Linked DNA regions of Homo sapiens: region 2 is reported to be linked to region 1. Evidence: microRNA targets listed by miRTarBase, many of them from high-throughput screens and not tested one by one. Region 1 holds a microRNA gene; the other region holds the end of a gene's coding sequence.
Evidence for each region. Region 1 holds the annotated microRNA hsa-miR-494-3p (UGAAACAUACACGGGAAACCUC, at 1,394-1,415, opposite strand). A microRNA usually pairs through its seed, bases 2 to 8, with sites in the 3' UTR of a target mRNA and lowers its output. Matches are read on the target gene's strand: a 7mer-m8 pairs with bases 2 to 8, a 7mer-A1 pairs with bases 2 to 7 and ends in A, and an 8mer does both.

Region 1 (4,526 bases):
CTTCAGCCCTCAGGGCAGGCCTTCTCTCCACAAGCCATCCTAGGTATGGGAGGGAGACTGAGGATGAACGGACCAAGACACACACCCGAAATAGAATGTCTGCTCTCAGACAAGATGTCCACTCCCATACCTCTCCATGGACCTGACGCCAACAGCCCTCCCCTGAAGCGCGTGTCACAGCCGGGACACATCTTCCGCAGTCTGACACTGAGGGCATCCAGGGCATCTGGGGCCTCGTAAGGCAAGCAGAGCTGAACAACAGACAGAGATGAGCAACGGCAACAAAGCCCTTTCCCCAAGCATGGACTGAACGCTGCCCACGAAGCGGCTGGATTCTGAGTGGTCCCAACACAGGAAGGGCTCATCTCAATCACGCTGCCAGCTCCTCAGTCCCCCATCCACGACTCACCAGGAGTGCTGCTGACACCAGTGGCCCTGCCGGAATCTAGCTTCATGTCCAGGAAGTCCTCCTATGGAAAAGAGATGGGCCACGTAGCATTCATCAAACACATGGCAAGCTTTGTCAGACAGCCTCTCTTCATGTAGCACAGAATAAAGTGGCCCTCACTACCACAGCTGTCCCAACGCCTGCCCTGTCCTGCACACACACAACACTCCTCAAACCCTTCCGAGGATAAACCACACCCCTGTACCAGGTCACACACACACCTCCTGCAGTCAGCATGTGGTGTGGGGTGGGACTTTCCCTGATGGGGCACTGAAGCCCAGGCCTCTGCAATCCTGGCATTGTCTGTGGCCAGACTATCAGCCCTCCTGGGCAGGATTTGAAACCAAAAGAGAGATTATTCACTGATGATTGCTTATATTGATTTTAACGAGGTAGGAGGAGGGGGCCCCGAAGGGAAACCCCTCCTAAAATCCTGCAGAGTCCCACGGGCCCCACGTCCTCCCACATCTTCTCCGAAGTTGCCATGTGCACCAAGATGTCATCCCACAGATGGACCGGGCGCTGGTGGATAGTCAAACGGGTGACCTACATCGTAAATGAAGTGCACGTCACCGGTCTACCATCCCCTCAGCTACCCTGGAGAGCAGATGGCACCATCGTCCCTTCAATGACGTTGCTAGCGTGTCCAGAAGGCCATCCAAGCAAGATCTCACACTGAAGAGGCGCCACCCACCGTGAATCAACAAATAGACAAACACCACAATGAGCAACCTCCTTCAACCACAGAAGCACAGGCCCTTCTCCAAACTCAGCTTCCCCTCCTAGGGGCCCTCCATGGCTGGGGCCTGAGAGCCACACCCCCACGACGCATGGCACGCTGTCAGCCTCGCTTGCGCCTACCGAGAGTGGAGCCGGCAACGTCCCTCCCTGAAGGCTGCATCAGGAACAGGAAGTGCCTCCAGGGTGGGATTTGATACTAAAAAAGAGGTTTCCCGTGTATGTTTCATCATAAATAAAGAGAAGACAACACGGACAACCTCTCCTTCGAGTATCGAAGATTAGCACTGATCAAAAAACAAACAAAAAAAATCAAAACAGAACTGCCGAATCTTCGCCGATGTTGGTGTCACCTCCAGGAAGATTCCCCGAATCTACATGGCACTGGGTAGACCAGACGTCAGATGGCTTCTATTTGCGTGTCCCAGGTTGCTTTTGGGAAGTCAGCCAAAAGCTCTTCAAGCCTTCACAATGAAAAGAGGTTGCCCGGGAAACATTTTCCGCCAATACAGAGAACACTTTAGGTACAACCTCTTTCCAGGTATTGGAGCTTTCCTGACGGTGGAACCAGGGTTTCCTTGTGGAAGTCCAGGCCACGGGAAGTGCCCCTAGTCATAATGGTTTGCATCCCAAAGTCAGTGCGTCAAGAGAGCTCATGAGTAAATCTCGAATTCTGTGGTCAAGAAGCAGGTGGCTGGGTCTGCAGTTAGCCGGTGCCCAGGCCCCTGTGTGGCACTGGCCATGGGTCCAAGCAGCCTTCCAGGCAAGGTGTGATTCCAAAAACAGATACATGGCACCGAGGAAGCTGTAAGCAAAGTGAGTGCCTGCTACACACGGCTAGGGAGGGAGGGTCGGGGAAGCCAGGAGCACCGCCAGGCCACCTTCCTCCAGGTCAAATCCCACTTAATGCCTTCTGCTGCCTTCAATCCAATTCAGCAGAATCAAGAAATAAAAACGAATCTCATTTCCTGATGTGAGCTCCCCAAATGTTTTAGCCAATTCTGGGCCGGATTTTCTGTTTGCTATAAAACTCCTTTGACAATAATTGTTTTCATGGTGGGGGGAGTACTGTTATCTCCAGACTCTTTTGCATCTCAACAGAGAGTTAGATCAATCCTGACAGGGCTGGGGAGAATCAGGGGTCAGAAAACTTCAGGTTTCCTCTTACAAAGTTGTAAAATTGTGCCCTCTTTTCCCCCGAAGGTGGACCCCGGAGCAGAGGTCTGAGAAGAAAATCCCAGGGCCAGGCTGCGGCTCTGCACCCTTGCCACCTGTCCTTTGACCCCTCCGTAGCCAGCAGAGCACCCAATCTACATGGACCCAGCAGCCGCCTACCCTGGATACCCCGGAGGCAACAGCATACTGCCTGCTGTCACATGGCCTTGACACACTCTCTCTGCCCTCTCTTTATGAGGGCTCTTTTCGGCTGGAAGGAACGGTGTTTGGGTATCAGCTAATAGGAAGGATTGGTGGCGGAGGTCATTGGTGCTACCTCATATGTTCTCTCTGGTTATAAAAAGCAGGGTTGACATGGAAATACCTGGCCCTTCTCCAGAACCTGAGGCCCTCCTCCCTCACAGTCCCATCCCCAAATGCCACAGATGAGCCGAGGACCCACAGTCACAGCTAAGTGCCATCAAAACAAATGCAGCACCAGCAAAACCTACTTCTGTGCCTTGGCTTTAGAGCTGGCAGGGAGCCTTTTCCTTCCCCAGAGGCTGGCATCACCTCCAGGAAGTCCTCCTGGAAAGGATCGGGCACCAAGCATTACTGCCAGACAGGACGCTTAGAACAGGGGAAGCACCCATCTCGGCCCACTCACCCTGGCCTGGGCCTGACAACTGTCTTATCCGGAAGCCTTCCAAACTGGTGTTTGATACTGAAGAGTGGTCCACAGAAATGATTTATATAAAAGAAACAGATATGCCAAAGGAAACCTCTCCTTGAGCACCCCAAAGAAGGACCATCTGCAGAAACACAACCCTGAGGGTAGGTCAGATGTGCTGGTCAGTGGAGCAGGTGTGTTCCTGGGGAGGTACATGCCCCGTGGTGGGCCATCCACTCCCTTCCCCTGGATCAGGGCTGGTGACAATGCCCTCCCTTCAAGCTGGCATGACATCAAGGATTCCTCCAGATTTAAAGGAAGTCAACTCCACAATTCCTGTGAGAAATAAACAGGTCTCAACCTGGGCCAATTCCAGGGCCCCCAAGGTCTCCTCTTGACCTCAGAATCAGCTTTTCTTCCCTAAGGTGTCATTATATCCAGGACATCCTTTCAGAATAAACTGCAGGCTAGGGGCAGGCGTGCAGGACACCTGCACTATCTGTCCAGGGCATGCTGGCATTCCCCTGCTGTGGGCTGGGCTCATTCAAGCCCATCACTGAGTGTGGCAAGGACGAGGCATCCCCCTACAGCAGGGTCAGATGCCGAAAGAGCCTGAATTACACACACGATCCGTTGGGAGCACAACGAAGGCAACCACAGACAACTCACCTGCATGTTCCGTGACACTGTCGTGGTGACACTGTCTTCCCCCAGGCTGCCATCACATTGAAAAGTCCTCCTAAGAAGGGATAAGACATTGAGGGTTAGCGCAATCGGTGGCAAAATTCAGAAACATGGGGCACGCTTAGTGATCAGCCATTTGCTCGTGTCTCCTTATTTATGTCCACAGCACCCCTTCCCTGAAGCTGAGGTCTGGACCAGAAGGCCTCCAAGATGGGATTTGATACTGGAAAAGAGGTTAACCAGGTGTGTTTCGTCCTCAATAAAGAAACAGAAACCCAGAAAACCTCTCTTCAGGTACCACCAAGTAACACTGACAAGAACACCACTGATTCCTTCCCCAAACTTGACATTCAGTCCTGGAAGTCCTGTTAAATACGGATTGGACACTGGGGTTAGTAGAACAGATGACATCAGTCAAAATAATACAGCACAGGCTTCGTGGTTAACCATAGATTTCTGTCCAGTGGACTGGAGCTGAGAGTAACGCCCTTCCCTGAAGCTGAGGTCTGGACCAGAAGGCCTCCAAGATGGGATTTGATACTGGAAAAGAGGTTAACCAGGTGTGTTTCGTCCTCATTAAAGAAACAGAAACCCAGAAAACCTCTCTTCAGGTACCACTGATTAACACTGACAAGAACACCACTGATTCTTCCCCAGACTTGACATTCAGTGCTGGAAGTCCTGTTAAATATGGAATTGCACACTGAGCGTTAGTTAGTTGATTTGCCGGAAGAAGCCAAGAGTTGGATGCATGCTGCTTGCCAACCATCTATCCAAGTACCCCAGTGGAGCAGACCCCACATCACGTCTGGAAGTTGACATCACAGCCAG
Region 2 (4,000 bases), not on the chromosome of region 1:
GATCTCTTCTGACTTAGGGTTCCTTTGGTCTGTCCTTCTTCTGACAGTGTTTTCTCTCTCTTTTTTTTTTTTTTTTGGCCCATTCACAGGTCCTATTTATAGACAACTGGCGTGTCCTACATGGCAGGGAATGCTTCACTGGCTACCGCCAACTGTGTGGCTGCTATTTAACAAGAGATGATGTATTAAACACTGCTCGCCTCTTGGGGCTTCAGGCTTAAAATTGACAGCATCTGGATTATGAATACACCTGGCACCCTGGCTACCAGAATTTCATATGGGCAGAATAATATTGTGTCAAACTCTACTTCAGATTGTCTCCTTATCCCATCCCACAAAACAGAATCTGTCCGTTTCTCTAGTAAGGGAGACTTGTTGGAGAGGCGGGACTCTGAGTTATCTAATGTCAGACATCTAGTGGGGCAGCTCTCTTCCTCATGTTATAACATGGATCCACTTGTTTGATTTAAACCTTTTAATATAATTTTGGTCAGTCTCCTTCAGAAATATAATCTCCATATTGATAGGAAAGCAATAATTGCCATGAGGTAACGATTTTTTTCCCAAGTAGATCAGTTAGAAAGAAATGCATTCTAGAAATAACAAAAATCCTGATAAAGCAACAATTTGCAAAATGTTTGGTCTTAGGACACCTTAACACTCTTAAAAGTTATTGAAGGCCCCAAGGAGTTCTTGGGTGTGGGTTCTATCTATTGATACTAATTATTTTAGGTATTAAGACTGAGAAATATTTAAAGCTCAAGAAGAACACAGAAGCACACATCCCTCAGCTATGAGAGAGATGACATAACCATATGTCATGTAGCCTCTGGAAAAGTCCTCTGTATCCTCATGAGATAACGAGAGGGGGAAAAAAAGCTACTACTGCCTTTGTAACTTCCACTTAGCCTACTACAGGGCTATGCACATCTTAGTTTCCAAAAGTCTGCTTAATTTCAAAAGAAAAATGCCTAATTGAATGTAACTCATCTTGGTGTTATTATACAAAATAATTTTTAATCTGCAGACCCACGAAAAGGGTCTCAGGGACTCCTCCAGGGGTCTTCAGACCATACTTTGAGAACCCATGGGCTAGCGACTACCTTGAGACAGTCCTTTACCTAGGCCTGTGGATTAAAGGGTTTAGCTGAAACCCTAGATTCTTCTCTGTAGTCTAATAGAACTCCAAACATTGTAAGAATTGCTTGGTAGCATAAGCTCAGGGATAAGGTGGGAATTGAGTTCAAATATAGTGTTTTATCTTCCACACAAATCATCTCTATAGGAGTTAAATTAGGAAGTCACAACAGCGCCTGTTGAACAAACTCATCAGTGTGGTAATCCTATGAGGGATAATTGCAGAAAGGTTTTAGAGACTTGTGAGGTTCCATATGATAATTCTTTACACCTCCCCCCCCAAGAGAAAGTACACAGGGCTATTCTGTAATATTGTTCAGGGAAATCAGCATGATAGATGCTGTGCCTCCAGAGAGTTCTCTGGAGATTACTACCCAAATGTGTATTTTGGCAATTTGGTGGTATTTAGGATGTAATATGTTTTCCTCCATTTCTGCTAATTTTCTCTCTCTCTCTCTCATAACATACTATACATGCTAATTGCCAAGATTTGAATGAGTCAAATTTAGTAGCTTGCTGCTTTTATTTTTTAAATGGCTTCTTTTACGTATTGGCGGGGGCGGGTGGGGGGCAGGGTATGAGGCTTCTTTTCCCTCAGCTTTCATTGAAAGTGAAGCTGTACAATAACCACATTGACCACTGTAGAATGATGAAAGAGAATATAGGCTAGGATGCACACAAGAGGGGGGAAAAGGCATTATTAGTGAAGATAGGAGTTACAAAGCAAAGCAAAGTCAGTATTCAGATAGAGAATAGAGCCTAATCTGATGTTTGCAGGGAGTTCCTAGATCACATTTGGCAATTTACACATTATTTTATTGACCTATCCAGTGCTCCAAAATGTGTTCCAAAATATTTTGGCATTTTATTTGTACTACATAGGAATCTTTAGGGGAGTCCCTGAAATTTGTTTTCCTCTTAGGTCAAAGGACTGATAATTAACTTTGGTTCTTAAGGAGTATGCCCTTTAGCAATAAGAACAGCAATAACATTTTACCCTGCAGTTTTTTCTCTATACCTACTATTATGCACTCCTAAAATATGTCATCATTAGTCTTCATGAGGATGTTTACCATTTCTGAAGTTTTGCGTAAATTAGCCTTGAAGATTACACTATAACTGAGGTCATCAGCATTGACTTATGGCCAGCAAAGGACATGCTCATGGCCCTGGAGAGATGAGGACACAAAACAAATCAATTTCCCCACTTACTGAAGGACTCCCCTTACCTTCTGTCTCTCCTGAGACCTTGACTCATTAATTATTTTACTCTCCTTTTTGGAAATTTGCAACCGGTCCTTCTCAACAATGTGCTCCCTTTAGTACACTGAAGAAAAAGAGAAGGGGATTATTTGAGTCCTGATCACGATGCATTGAAAACTTCCTATGTGAGATGTTTCTGTTTTTATATCTCTTCCAGGTGTCCCTGAGTATATAAGCATGGGTCTATGTCTACCAAGCTCACTGTAGAGTCACTTTTACCTTTTGCTATGGTGGAATGGGATCTGTAGGGTCAGGAACACAGCACCTAACACAGTGCCTTATGGATAGTAGTTTTATAATACAGATGTGTTGGAAGAATAAATGAATGGGTCCTTTTCAAACAAATTCACCAGAAGTTACCACATTCTCTGTATGTATGTCCTTTTTCGTTTGGCATTTAGCTGACACTGACTTTTGTTTGCTTTCATCTAGAGTGACCAACCATCCTCTTGTGCCCAGAACTACAGGACTTTCCATTTTAAAAGTAGGAGAGTCCCACACAAACCAGGACTGTTGGTCAGTCACCGTACCTTCTTGCTGCTAGATATGTAATTTTCTTTGGTTTTCATCACCGGTTCCCATTTCTTTGAAAGTGTTTGTAGGTCACACACTGTGTAGTCCATGATGAAAAGAACAAAAGATGTATGAATTATGGTGTGTTGTGGTGGTTCCCAAAGTAGGGTCCCCAGACCACCAGCAGTGGCATCATTTGAGAACTCCTTAGAAATGCAAATTTTCAAGGCCCACCCCACGCCTACTAAGTAAGAAACTCTAGGCATGGGTACCAGCAGTTTGTTTTAGCAAGTCCTCTGCAGGATTGTAACACATGACAAAGTTTGAGAACTACTGACAGGAAGAGTCCTGCTGCTGAGTTCTAGGCCCAGTTCTGTCACTGGCTCACTAAATGACTTCAGGCATGTCCCTCTCCTATTTTGAACTTCAGTTTTCTCTTCTGTGAAATGAAAGCCTTGGACTAGGCAGCGTCTAAAGGCTCTGTCACTCCGTAATTGTGTGACTTTGGTAACTTTGTTTGACTTCTCCTTGCTTAAGTTTTCTCATATGGGTATGGTAAGGAAAATACCTACCTCACAGGATTTTCTAACAATTTTGTGATTATTAAGTATGATGACTGATGACTAATATATGACAGCCAGCTCTTACACAGTGCTTTCTATATCCTGGACTGTTGTAAGTGCTTTTAATCCCCGCAACAATCCCATCTCCATTTTACAAATGAAAAATAGAGGTCACACGGCTAATACGTGTCAGAGTTTGGATTAAAACCCAGAAAAATCTGTCCCCAGAGACAATGATTTTAACTAGCATGCCCTTTTGCTCAATAAATGTTAATTCCCTCACCCTTTCCACACACACACAGTCTAGCTGACCATTCATAGACAATAATCCCACTTTCACAGTCCATCCAACAAGATCTTAAAAGAACCATGAGAATCTCTAGGTTTCTTTTGCAAATAGTTTTCAAGCATTTAAAAAAAAAAGGTGGGGGGCGGGGAGGGAGTGGCCAAGATGGCTGACTAGAAGCAGCTAGGGTGAGTGGTTCTCATGGAGGGGAAGGAAAGGGGCGAGTAAATACAGCGCC

Region 2: miRTarBase lists TMLHE as a target of hsa-miR-494-3p. Seed matches in the 3' UTR shown: 7mer-m8 at 2,531-2,537.

The regions. Positions count from the first base shown.
Region 1 is chr14:101,026,570-101,031,095 of GRCh38, reverse strand. It overlaps MIR494 (microRNA 494), which reads right to left and starts at 1,462; the gene lies at 1,382-1,462. LOC124903407 (mucin-2-like) reads right to left here. Exons shown (of 5, transcript XM_047432049.1): 5 at 1-4,526. It overlaps MIR329-2 (microRNA 329-2), which reads right to left and starts at 3,996; the gene lies at 3,913-3,996. MIR1193 (microRNA 1193) reads right to left here and starts at 1,044; the gene lies at 967-1,044. It also overlaps MIR329-1.
Region 2 is chrX:155,487,756-155,491,755 of GRCh38, reverse strand. It overlaps TMLHE (trimethyllysine hydroxylase, epsilon), which reads left to right. Exons shown (of 8, transcript NM_018196.4): 8 at 90-2,745. The coding sequence ends at 221. It overlaps TMLHE-AS1 (TMLHE antisense RNA 1), which reads right to left. Exons shown (of 4, transcript NR_039991.1): 3 at 2,367-2,464. Among named protein-coding and RNA genes, the nearest start is that of TMLHE-AS1, 23 kb to the right of the region's middle.